Regions from separate parts of the Homo sapiens genome. Here regions 1 and 2 are each linked to region 3. The links come from fine-mapping of genetic effects on gene expression. A gene starts in region 3. Each other region holds a variant in brackets. All regions are shown on one strand. Distances are between the middles of the regions.

Region 1 (4,243 bases), 78 kb after region 3:
TGAGGGAGCTCTTTCACCCTTTCTACCATCTGAAGACGGGGTGAGAAGGCGCCATCTATGAACCAGAAAGCAGTCCCTCACCAGACATCAAATTTGCTGGCACCTTGATCTTGGACTTCCCAGACTCCAGAACCACAAGAAATTTTTTTTTTTTTTTTTTTGAGATGGAGTCTTGCTCTGTTGCCCAGGCTGGAGTGCAGTGGCGTGAACTCGGCTCACTGCAAGCTCCGCCTCCTGGGTTCAAGCCATTCTCCTGCCTCAACCTCCTGAGTAGCTGGGACTACAGGTGCCCGCCGCCACGCTCGGCTAATTTTTTGTATTTTTAGTAGAGACGAGGTTCTGGGCTTGGTGGTGGGCGCCTGCAGTCCCAGCTACTGGGGAGGCTGAGGTAGGAGAATGGCGTGAACCCGGGAGGCGCAGCTTGCAGTGAGCCGAGATCGCACCACTGCACTTCAGCCTGGGCGACAGAGCGAGACTCCATCTCAGAAAAAAAAAAAAAAAAAGAAAAGAAAAGAAAAGAAAAGAAAGAAATTTTTGTTGTTTTGAAGCCACCTAGTTTCTTGTATTTTGTTTTAGCAGGCTGAATGGACTAAAACAGAACTTCTGGTTTAGATCATTAGCTACCAACTTGGGGGAATGGGGCCAGGCTGCAATAAATGACAAAGCAATCCTAAGAGATGGATTATATATATTATATATATAATATTTTAATATATATTTTATATATGCATATATATTTTTATATATGCATCCATGTGTCTATATATGTGTGTGTATATCTTTAACAGTAACACCTACTGTTAAATATACCATTAGAAAAATTCCAAAGGTTGAAACTACTGCACAGAAGCGTATCTCTGTCCAGGGTTGTCTAAACACTGAAGACTCTCCAGGAGAATTTGCCTCTGGACGTTAAGGTGATTGACCTGGGGACTTTAGTTTTTGTTGCTGTGTAACAAATTACCCAAATGGAGTGGCTGAAAGCAGGAGCCGTTTGTCATCCCTCAGCTCTTTAAATCAGATGTCTGGCCCAACGTGAGTGGTTCTCTGTTTGGGTATCACAAGGTTGAAATCCAAGTTGAGCAAAGGTCTCATCTGGAGGCTCTGGGGAAGGATCCCCTTCAGAGCTCATTCTTGTAGTTGGCAGAATTTGTTTCCTGTGGCTATAGACTGGGGTCTCTGTTCTTTTGCTGGTTGTGAGACTGGGGTTCCCTTCAGCTCCTACAGGCTGTTCTCTGTTCCTTTCCATGCAGCCCTGTCTATCTTCAAAGTCAACAATGAATAATCTCCTTGGTTTGAGTATCCTTCCACATTCTACTTTCTCTGACCTCCTAATCTGCCACCACATGAAGACCATTCTCTGCTTGTAAAGGGCTCACGATTCAGACAGGTCCATACAGATTGTCTTTCTTACAGTCAACTCAGTCATATAACGTAACATAATCACTGGATTGCTATCTCATCATATTTAGAGGTTCTACCCATACTCAAAAAGGAGGAGGTTATATATATAGGCCAGGGTCATGGGTCATTCCAGTTTGTGCCAACCACATGAATCAGAGAATCTGGTTAAACATGATGTGGTAGACAGCCTCTGAGGTGGCCCGCTGTGATCTCCATGCTTGGTATTTACGCCCTTGTGCATCTCCTTCCTCAAGTGACCTGGACCTAGTGACTCACTTTTAACAATGAGCATATGGAAAAAGGGATGGGAGGAACACTAAATAAAAAGGTGTACATTGACTCAAAGTCACATGGACAATGCACATTTAAAAACATTACTCTGTGAAGAAAATCTTGGTGACATTGTAGCAGATGATATAGGAATACTGGTCCTTGTGCCACTATCTAGATTAGAGTAATATTTATCACATATTCACCTACACAGTGGCTGCCATCTTTGTCAATGCAGAGCATTAAGAAAGGACCAAATGCCCTGACTGAGAGGAGGAATACAACTGGAGTGGAAATGTAGTTGTCAGCAGAAAAGAGATGGAAAATATATTTAGGGGTGGAGGTGGGATTTGGGGTTGAGGAAAATGATGGGAGTGTAGGAACTGTAAAAACAGAGGTAGGCATACTTACTCTGTTTCAGTTCTTGACAATTGGCAATCTTAAATTATGAATGTTTATTCTTTATTAAGAGTATTTACAATATTCCTTTCCTAACAATGCTGAACCAAACTGATTGGATAATACAGTCATAAATTTACCTTCACACTTCATCAAAATTAAAGGAATAAGAACAGCTAC[A/G]TAATGCCTTTATACACATTTCCTCAGTCAAAAATGCTGAGGGGCGTGTGTTGCTTTAAAAATGTGTATTGTATGGTGAAATCTAGAATTAAACTCCTAACTTAAGGTCGGATTTAATAAAAAGCAAGAGGAGCAGAGTGCCAGGCCCACTTGACTGTGTGTTAGAAAATTCTATTTTATTTGCTCTGCACTTCTCTGTCTTATGAAACCTGACTTTTTAAAAATTAAACTTAGATTCCCAACTCTGAGACTATATTCAGCATATTTTCTTCCTCGGCTTCTTTGCTTCTATTACTCCCTAGGGCCATCTTTGTCTCTTCCCCAGTAAGCCAACTTCCATTGCTGACCAAAATATGATACATCAACATTTACCATCTTTCCATGTTATTGCTTAGTTTCATTGCTCTATTCATTTTTACAATCTCCCAGCAAGCCCTCCCCTTTTCATGTTTTTATATTTCTCTTCTCTGGAGGCTATTTTTTCTCTTCTTATGTCTTGCACTACATTTCTATTTTGAAAAAACAAATACTTGTACTGCTTTTTTCTTAATCAAGAGTAAGGCTGAACTTTATTACATATTCTCAGGCATTGCCAATTGACTTTACTAATTCCTGAAAATCATCCATTGGTTGTTAATTCTGTACCATTATCTCCTGGACCGTGAGATCACTAACAAATGCCCTTACTGAGAACAGTTGGTATTGGATGGTTTAATCAGATTGTAACTTTTTTTTTTAGGTGTACCTAAAGAATCCCTAAGTCTTTCTTCTTGGCCTCAGAAGTTTAGAGTTTTAAGTTTTCTTGGATTTTATACCATTAGAGCTGGAGATCATTCTATATTTCCTTATCTAAAGTCTCTGTGATAACTCCTTTCCCTATATTCTTATTTTCTCATAATGCCTATAAAAATTCAGCTTATAATGCTTATAACCATAAGCATTATAACTGCTTTCCCTGTATTCTTATTTTCTCATATTGCTTGTAATCATAATAGATTCAGGTATAATCTATGCAACCTTAATATTCATTAGTTCTGATGGTTTTAGATATGAGGATGGTCCAAAATATTTGATGCCATATATCTGGAAACCTTGTAGTGAAGGTTATTAAATCCTAGGGAATCACAGGAAGAAGTATGGGGAGAAATTTCCAGGAAAAAGAACAGATGTTACAGGGGCAAGCTGATTTATTATTTCATATTCTATATCTCTCTTACAAATATTGCCCTCTCTCCCACCCAAGCTTGATAATATATACATATATTTATAATTTTTAAAGAGGGATAAATTGGTGATGACTGTAGACTTATTTACAAATGTGTACTAAATAACACTTGAATCAGTTCTTATGATTGACTCAAGCTATGACTTACTATAGAATGTCTGAGTTTCCTGGTTATTTCCCTCTTTCCCTCTTATGCAGATCAAACTCTAGGCCCCACACCTAACATTGCTGATTTAATGATTTAACATTGAACTTGGAAGTGTGTGTTTTACATTGGAGGAACCTGATTACAGTGCATAATGTCTTCACAGATAAGTGTTAATGTGGAAAATGGTGCCATATTTTGGAAGTCAACTGGAAAATGACACATGGCAAGCTTGGCAGCACAACAGTCGTGAAGCAGTTCATGATCAGCCTTGGAAAGTTGCAGAGAGATGGCAGGCAATGACAGTGATTCAGGCCTTCCCTGATTTATACAGGAAATTAACATCTAAGTGGTGTGTGTACAAATTTTTAAGAACAAGTGATCCTGATGGAAAAATAATATGGAAGGTAAAATTTAAAAAGAAAACTCTTAGACCTATAAATTGATCATTTTGTTTTCAGAGAACTTGAAAGTGAATTTGATGCTTAGTTTAATCAAATTAGAAGTTGAATAGGGCTGTATGATTAAATTCCATAATGGATCATAAGTTAGAAGTAAACCATCATTCCTATTAATGTTTCTATAAATCTAATCATAATTTTGTGGTACTCTGATTCATA
Region 2 (4,243 bases), 46 kb after region 3:
GAAAGGCCAAGCTGCATCTGAAATGTACAATGCACTTATTCTGAGGCTACACTTCCCACAGGCCAGTGGCTGAGCATCACAGGATCACTCAGGAAGGCCCCTTTGTATAAGCTTAAGAACTCCCTCTGGCTTTGCAGGAATTTTCTTTAAAATGCACTGCACTCTTTCTCCTTCTTTCTCTGTTTCCTTCCTTCCTCCCTCCCTTCCTTCCTTCCTTCCTTCCTTCGTTCCTTCCTTCTCTCTTTCCTTCCTTTCTTTTTTCCCTCCTTCCTTCCTTCGTTCCTTCATGGTTCCACTCTCCATGGAATTTGAACATGCTTTAATTACCATAAATCTATTTTTAAGATGTGTTGAAGCATTTTTGCTGAAGAACTATCAGTAATTACAGTTGCTAAAAAGCAGCTTGATTTTGTTTTCAGCCTGGCGCATATCTACTTTTATGTCAAGTGACCAAGGCGTGTACTTTACAAGAACAATTTTATAAAAGAATTCTGTAAGGTGTCATCATTTACTGAAAAACTACATGACTTTTAGCACCTACATTCTTCTGGAAAGGTTGATTGGTTCAGCAGAAGTCTTGAAAAGTGGTAAGAATTCATCTAAAGTGTTCACAGGTACCTAGAAGCTTTGGTTCCTGGCCCTGTGTTATGTTGATAGGTGGTACATGCCATGAACACATGCCAGACTCAGTAGTCTTTGTAAAGTTTCTTCACCAATGTTGATGGAGATAGTGAACAGTTTGTATCATGATGAGTAGTTTCATAGAGAAATTTATGGAATACCTATTTGAATTCATCTGGTGCCACCATCAGACTATCTTGGGAGTGTCAGAGATTACCTGAGCGAAGGGTTAGACCAGGTAGCTTCAATTCTTTCTTTATAAAATCTCAAACTAAACAATTATTATTGTATAGTGGCTTATTTGGAATCCACCTATAGATTTATCTTTTGGTACTTTAGATAGGATTATAACCTTGGTAAAGACTCGTTTGGCATAATGATCTACTAGATAATTTCTTTTAACTTCCATATTGCCCCTTCTTGCATGGACCTAAACCATTATCATAGTCATCTGTCTAAGAAGTAGGAGTGCCTCTAAAAGTTCCTTAACTATAGTCTATTTTTTTTGGTCGGTGTTGTCAGCTACCTAGAAACCCCTTTGTTTCCAAAGCATCTCCTAATCATGTATTACTCCAGAAGCGTGTTTGTTATCAGTATATATCCCTCTCTGAACTTCGGTGAATGGAAAAGCTCTAGCAAGTGCAGTAAGTTCTCCCATCTGGGCTGATTTTCTCTCAGGTATAAGATTGTATTCTAAAGGAGAGCTTAAATTAGTGAGAGTGTATCCTGTTTAATCCCCTCCAGTTTCAGTTTTGAGGTATGATATTAGATGAAGTTGCTCAATGTAAGCCTCTAATACATCTGGGTGAGATAGTGAAGGTTACCTAACCATGGTAAGGTGATCTTGAGGTCCTCTTTATTATGACGAAGGCAGGAAAGCAGAAGGACTCAGGGTGTTGTAGGACTCAGTAGTTTAACTGAGACCTAGGTCAAGCATGGAGCCTAGAACTAGTTCAGCAGAAATATTGACATGTAATAGCAACTGGCCTAAGACCAAGTGAACAAGTCAAATGAGGCTATAGTAAGCATTTGGGTTTTTTGTTTCCCATGAACCACAGAGGACAAAAAGGCTTGTTCAAACCACTTA[T/C]GCACAAATAGACAAAAAAGGCTGTTTGCAGTTAACGAAGCCTAGGGAAGAAAGCTTTGAAAAACCTTCCTTAGGTAATAGAAGGCTTGTTCATGTTTTGAATCCTAAAAGAGAGAGTCTCTTATTTAGGACTTAGTCAGTTAATAAAATTGACGCAATTTCAGAAAAAAAAAATTGGCACATGTTGTCTGCAATATCCAGTTAAACCCAGAAATCCTCTCAATTATTGTATTGTAAGAGGTTTAGGAACAGTTCAGTAGTGTTTATTCTATCTGAAGAGAGGCCTTTTTTTTTTCTCCTTAGATAGATCATGGCCTATAATGGACTGTGTTTTGGTAAAATTGTAATTTAGCTTTTGAAACTTTATGTTCTTTCCCACTAAAGTTGAGAGCAAGTAAATGGATTCCTTTTTTATGGGTTTCCTTTTTCTCTCAACAAAATAGGTCATCTACATATTGTGTCAAAGCTGAATCAAAAGAAAATTTAGACCTTCTGTCTTGATTGAAGGTCTGGAAAAAATATGAGGGTGCTTTAGTTAACTTCTAGAGCATAACAGTGCAGGCATATTTTCATTCTCCCCAAGTAGGACCAGAAGATATTTGTTGTCTGCTCTAGGGGCATGCTGAAAAAGAGCACAGATCTGCCACAAGGACTTAAGTAATTTTAGGAATTGACAACAAGGTGATATTTGGATTAGGTACTACTGGGAAGTGAGAAGTGAGAAGTGGGGGCTAACAATTTTATTGATGGCCTTGAGGTTTTGAACAAATACATATCCTTGGCCATTTGTTTTGCAGGTGGTGGTGTTTTTCTTCTTTCTTTTCCTTGTAGAATGGAAGTGTTACAATGTTACAAAGGCTAGTTCAGAGTAAGAGAAGGCCTTTGGATATAAGGCCTTTGCCAATGGGTCTGAGACTTTCTCTTGCTTCTGGCTTCAAGGGATATTGGTGAAGATTGGGTAACAGTTTGGTGAGGTAAAAGATTAATAAGATCTGTTCCAATTATTTTCCCATGTTAGTGTGTGTCCCATAGTGTGTCAGGTATGATGTCAAGATCGCTAATGGAGGTATGCATCAAATGTAATGGAGAGGACAAAGGTATATCAAAGTATAATCTACAACTTGATCATGAACAGAGAAATCCTCTGAAATTTCAAAACATACCTGGAACTTCTGGTGTGCATTTAATATTATGATCTCATTTGAAAAGTAAATCTCTCCCTGTCAAATTTGCAGCTGTGTTATTAGAGAGGCTGAAAGAATGTTTTTAAGTCAAATGCCCAAGTGTTAAAAACTGGGAGATAGTAAAAACCTGTGGGTTATTGAAATACCTCCTACCTGTGTGGTAAGTTTATTCTGAGGAAGAGGAAGGATTTCACATGGAACAAATAGTACCTGTGTCCACCAGGAATTGATGAGGTTGACTAGTTTTATATATATAGTCAATTCAACTTGATTATTTAAGGGTAAGATAGGCATGTTTTTCCCTTGAAGTACAATTATTAATCTGGATGGAGGAAGTTTTTTTTGGCTTGAATTTTCTTTTGTAAAATAAAACCATTATTATTCCACTTTTGTTACAATGTTAACAAGCATCCTTGTCAATACAAGATCAGTTTTAAAATGGGCTATTTTACTGTTTGATCTGCAGGGTAATAATTTTATTTTGGGTCTTGTCTCAATTTTGTTGTAAATCTCTTTCAATGTGTTCTGAGTTAGGTGCAAAATTTAGGAATGTAATGAGAGAAAAAAAAGTTTTCCTGGAAAAGAAGATAACTTAGACTTAGCTGACCCCATAGGAGCTGGCAATGGTTGGTCACTAGTGATACTTGTGTACATTGTGTGTTTGACCCCAAATTTGATAATTGTCTGCCACTAAATGCAGATGTGACTATCTGTGCTTCTTGATAAGTGGAAATGAGAGAGAATGCTTTCTCTAGAACAAAGCCACACTCTTAGAACAAAACAAAACAAAACAAAACAAAACATGAGTTGAAATGGACTTCATTCGGCTTTATTGGTGACCCACTGAAATGTCTGGATGTATGCCAATCTGGTGAGAACTGCAAACTCACTATGGTATGAAGCAAGCTAAACAAGTTTATAGGGACTATGCCTAGGTTATATTGTGTGATTTTGCTTATTATGAAAAACAACACTTTTAGACAGTACAACATAACATAGGAGCACAAGAAATAGTAAACATGAATGAATAGCAATGGCTCAATTCCACCAGGGTGCCGAACAAATGGAAATCAAGGACAACACCTGGGGGTACCAAACTAAAAATAGTTGAGGAACCCATCACAAAGGGACCTGTAATAGTCCGTTCTCATTATTAATATAAATAACTACCTGAGACTGAGTGATTTATAAAGACAAGAGGTTTATTTGACTTACAGTTCCACAGGCTGTACAGGAGGCATGGCTGAGGAGGCCTCAGGAAACTTACAATCATGGTAGAAGGGTGAAGGGGAAGCAAGCACATCTTCACATGGCAGTAGGACAGAGAGAGAAGCAGGAAGTGCCACACACT
Region 3 (4,243 bases):
TCTCCGTATGGCAACCATATGCTAATAAAAGACATTTGAGGGCAGTTTAAAGCATCTAGTTCGTATTTGAGGATACTCGCCCCTATATATCACACGTCTCGTAGCAGAAATCCCCAAAATAATGACAGGTTCACCGCCATAACTTGATATGAGTCACAGCAAACACTTCTCCATGGGATTTTAGAAGTGGTGCAGCCCCGAAGCCTTGTCATTATGTAGGTGAATGACCAGCAGCAGAGACCAGCTGGACTGCCCTCGGTAGCTTCAGCCCCTGATGAAGTATGCACAATGAGATAACTCCTAGGGAGTTTCAGCACCTCCTTGTTTTCATGGAAGTCACTGCAGAAAATCCCAAGACTCTTAAATATTGGTCACATAGTTCTTAAAAGTGAAAATTTACACCTGTCAGGCCTAATACTATGCTGACAACATTCTCTGTTTTCTAAATCAACATATTTGCTTGAGCACAGTAAAAATACATCTTAATAACACCTGCCAGAGCTAAGGCGAATCAGATCAGCTCAAATGAGGCACACAAGAAAAGAAAAGAAAAAAAAACACCTTGGAAACACAACCTGCCCCTCTATCTCTCATCTCCCACACCCTTCATACCCCCACGGTTACAGCAAAATACAACTTTGGGCATTTTGGAAGTAACTGTTATTTGTGACACACACACACACACCCCAAAAATTCCCAAGTCTGTTTTCCTACCACAAACACCAGGGAGGCTGCATCACCTTTCTAGTGACTTAATTCTGAAAGCAGAGGCTCAACCTGCCGAGTGGCAATCGAAGAAAACACACTACACACCAGAATAAGATGAGGGTCGGGAAAAAAAGAAAAAAGCAGCTTCGCTTTCAGCCATTAATTACGGATCACCCCAATTTTGCATCGCTCATCTCCCATACACACGCACAGCCTTCCAAACCTGGCTTTCAGGCGGCGCTTTCTGGAGCCTGGCTGTCTATTGTCAGCACGCAGAAGCCCCCGAAACCTGTGAAGCCGGCTGCAAAGGCTTGCTGGGAAGCCGCTAAATATAGACCAAGGGGGCTCAGGGTCTGGCAAGCCGCGGGAGCCTGAAGACACGGCCATGGACGCATATGACTAAGTCTTTCCATTTTGTTCTAGCCAAACATCGTAATGACATTGAACATAAGGGCAAAAGACTGGAGGGAAGTCCTCCCCACCCCCACCCCGTCTCCTCCCGTATATTAGGGACGTCATGAATGCACCGAGTATGTTCTCAGGGTGGCGGGGAGCAGCATTGTCGGTGTTGCCCTAAATACGCTTCCTCCCGGGGAGATGGGTGGCAGGGAGGGGGAGCACGCAGGGCAGCCACTTGGTAACCGCTCCAAGAAAGGCACTAACCCCGGACCCCCTTCCAGGCACAGCGGCTTCCGAGGGGGACCTGGCGCGATCGCGGTCCTCCCCGAGGCAGGCAGAAACCCCGCAGCAGCCGCCGCCGCCGCCTGCCGGCCGGGAGCCCAGGACCACCCCCACCAGCGGCAAGAGGAGGAGGACGGCGCCGGGAGGAGGCTGCGCCCGGCCCCGGCCGCCCAGCCCCGCAACTCACCCAAAGGCGCGGCGCCCGGCGGCTTCCTCGCAAACATGCACCCTCCGCCGGCGACAGCTCCTCAGTCCGGGAAGAGGCGTGCGCGGCGCCGCCCGGCTTCAGGGCAAGGTCCTGACCTTGCCCAACTGCAGCATCTTCCGCTTTTGTTGTCTGAGCGCGGCCGCGGGACAAGGGATGCTGGCGGGCGGCAGGGGCGAGCGCCGCGGGCGAGAGGCGGCTCCCGACGCGAGTGCGCAGCGCCCGGCCCGGCGGCCCCTCCGAGCTCGGCGAGCGCAGCGCCCCCTGCCCGGCTCCGCGGGCTCCACGGGCTCCTGCGGGCTCCTCGGGGCTCCGGGCGCCGCCGCCAGCCGGCCGGGCTGAGAGAGCAGCCGCCGCGCCCGCAGCTCCGCTCAGCCGGCTGTCGCCGCGGGCGCGAGCCTGGGGCCGCCGCGGCGCCCGGCGCCGAGCGCTCCCGAGCTGCGCCCCGCGCGCGGCCCGCGCCACCTGTGCCGCCGCCGCCTCAGCCGCCGAGGGCGAGGCTCCTCCCGCGGCGCGCGGCAGCCTCAGCCTCCACCTAAACCTCGGCGGCCGGCCCGGGCGCCCGGCTAGTGAGGGAGCGTCCGCCCCGCCGCCGAAACCGGCCCCGGGTGCGGAGCATGCCCAGTGCCGCCGCGAGAGCGGCGCTTCGCCGCGCGCGTTCCACTTCTCCTGGTTTTCGCGGCAGCAGCGGCAGCCGCGGGAGAGAGGGGAGGAGGCCGCGGGTTGGGAGAGGGCCGAGCATCCTTGGGAACGCACGCCCTGGACCTGAGATGGGTGGATGCTCCGGAGCTAGGCGAAAGCTGGAAGGGACCCGGGAAGGGATGGAACCCCAGGTTACTCCGCTTCCCTAATTCACGTGCAAGGCGCTGACAGTTGACTCTGGTGGGGCAGATGTCAGCCTGCAACAAAGGACCAGGGTGCGAGGGGTCCTAGAGTGGCCAGGTGGGTTGGGGGAGGGAGGCTGGCGGAACGTGCTGGTGAGCGCAGGTAGATGCTCTTGCAGATCCTGTGATTCCAGAGCTAAGGAGGCACGAAGTCCAGCAGAGGTCTTCTCCACAGCACCTGCCCAATCTTGCCATCACCTTCCCTGTTCAGATGGCATGTTTTTGGCGGGTAGTGAGGGTTTCTCCTTAGGCAAAATCACTTCAGATTTGAAACTGGAATGTCTGTAAACTTCCTGCAAGAAAGACCCTTGCCCAGTCTGGAACTTGAGCAGATTAAGTTCTCTCTCCTCCCCTTCTTGTGCCACCTTGTCCTCCTCTCTTGGTATCTTCTGCTGCATCTCTGCCACCTTCTCTTCCTCCTTTTCTTCCTTATTTCAAAGTGAACCACTCCCCTGATCCTTCCCCACAGTCTTCCAGTGCATCTCGCATTGCCTTCTTCACGTTCAAATCAGTTTTCCATATCACCTCCTGGCTTGACTGCTCCTTGACCCCATCGGGACTTCCCCATGCGTAGCCTGCTGTGAAATACAGCAAGTGGAATCACCGTATTCAAAGTCTTGTTGAAAAACGAAACCCAAAACATGTGCCAAGGAAGGCCTCTGGGCCTTCGCCCCTGTCCCTCTGATTCAGCAGCAGTCAGGACGGGGCTCACGTCTGCTGCATTCACAAGCCAAGCCAAGCAGGGCACAGCCTGCCCAGGGGCCAGGTCGAATGTTCCTCCTAATTATGCCACGGGCATGACCCTGAACACCGCAGACTGTCTGAGGTTGTGATCTCCTCCACCCCCCCCACCCCCCCCACCCCCGCAGAGCTTGTTTCTGAAACACAAATAAGCATGACAGAATGCAGGAAATTGTAATAAAAGGGATTTGGTGCTTACGATTCTCAGTAACATTGTGCTTCTATTTTGTGTTGAAAGAGATTATCCAACAAACTTAAATGATTTGAATATTCAAGTCTATTCTTTATTATACTTGGGAGTAAGTTGAAATATAAATGGAAGTAAGAGTGAAGGAGAAAAGCGGTACAGAGGTTAAATAGGTAACAAATAATTGCTAGGAGGAGCAGATTAAGCAGACTATTGACAACAGTACAAATGTTCGCTTTTATTCCTCCTACCCCAGGTGTGGACATGCACACACAGGCTTTGTCTCACCTGCAAAAAACAGTTCTCCAAGCTAACTCCAAGTGTCTTAAAGCCAGTTTGATATTAAAATATCCTGAGTCCTGTGAGGGAAGACATGCAAGACCATTTTTTTCATCACACGTTTAATTGTAATTTTTATCTTAGTTCTCAGAAAGGCAGTTCAATTACACTGAGTACGTGGTACAAGACAAATTAGCAGCACCATATCCATTAGGCCACATTATATTTCAAGAGATGTTCTTAGTTCCCACCTGAGCTTCTGTCAGTCTGCTATCGTTTGGTTTTCTCTTTGCATCTTCTAACTCAAGAAGTCAGTGGGGAGGTGGAAAGGGAGATGAGGGGACATCAGTTACTCTTTAGATTAAAATGGAGGTAGATGTGTAGATGCTATCCACAGGTAATATATGTGTCTTTTATGCCTGATATAGATCTAAGTAAAGAAAATAATTTTCTAACGTTTTTTAGTTACTATCGAGATGAGCAATGACAAATTCTATCAACTAATTGTGTGTCTGGGAAATGAGCTGGAGGCAGTCCCTACAGATACTGTTGGGGCTG

Direction of the effects. Alleles are on the strand shown, and positions count from the first base shown. SD is a standard deviation of normalised expression in the study named.
In carriers of allele A in region 1, the expression in tibial artery of the gene that starts at base 2,206 in region 3 tends to be lower than with G alone (large effect, 0.75 SD a copy in GTEx).
As copies of C replace T in region 2, the expression in esophagus muscle of the gene that starts at base 2,206 in region 3 goes up (small effect, 0.24 SD a copy in GTEx).

Evidence for each region. PIP is the estimated chance that this variant, and not a neighbour inherited with it, causes the effect.
Region 1: its variant is the best candidate, but not a certain one, in a credible set for the expression of CTNND2 in tibial artery (GTEx, PIP 0.81).
Region 2: its variant is the best candidate, but not a certain one, in a credible set for the expression of CTNND2 in esophagus muscle (GTEx, PIP 0.59).

The regions. Positions count from the first base shown.
Region 1 is chr5:11,980,556-11,984,798 of GRCh38, forward strand. No RefSeq gene overlaps it. Among named protein-coding and RNA genes, the nearest start is that of CTNND2, 78 kb to the left of the region's middle. The variant A/G (reference allele first, on the strand shown) is at 2,254.
Region 2 is chr5:11,947,967-11,952,209 of GRCh38, forward strand. No RefSeq gene overlaps it. Among named protein-coding and RNA genes, the nearest start is that of CTNND2, 46 kb to the left of the region's middle. The variant T/C (reference allele first, on the strand shown) is at 1,709.
Region 3 is chr5:11,902,241-11,906,483 of GRCh38, forward strand. It overlaps CTNND2 (catenin delta 2), which reads right to left and starts at 2,206. Exons shown (of 22, transcript NM_001332.4): 1 at 1,577-2,206. The coding sequence starts at 1,613.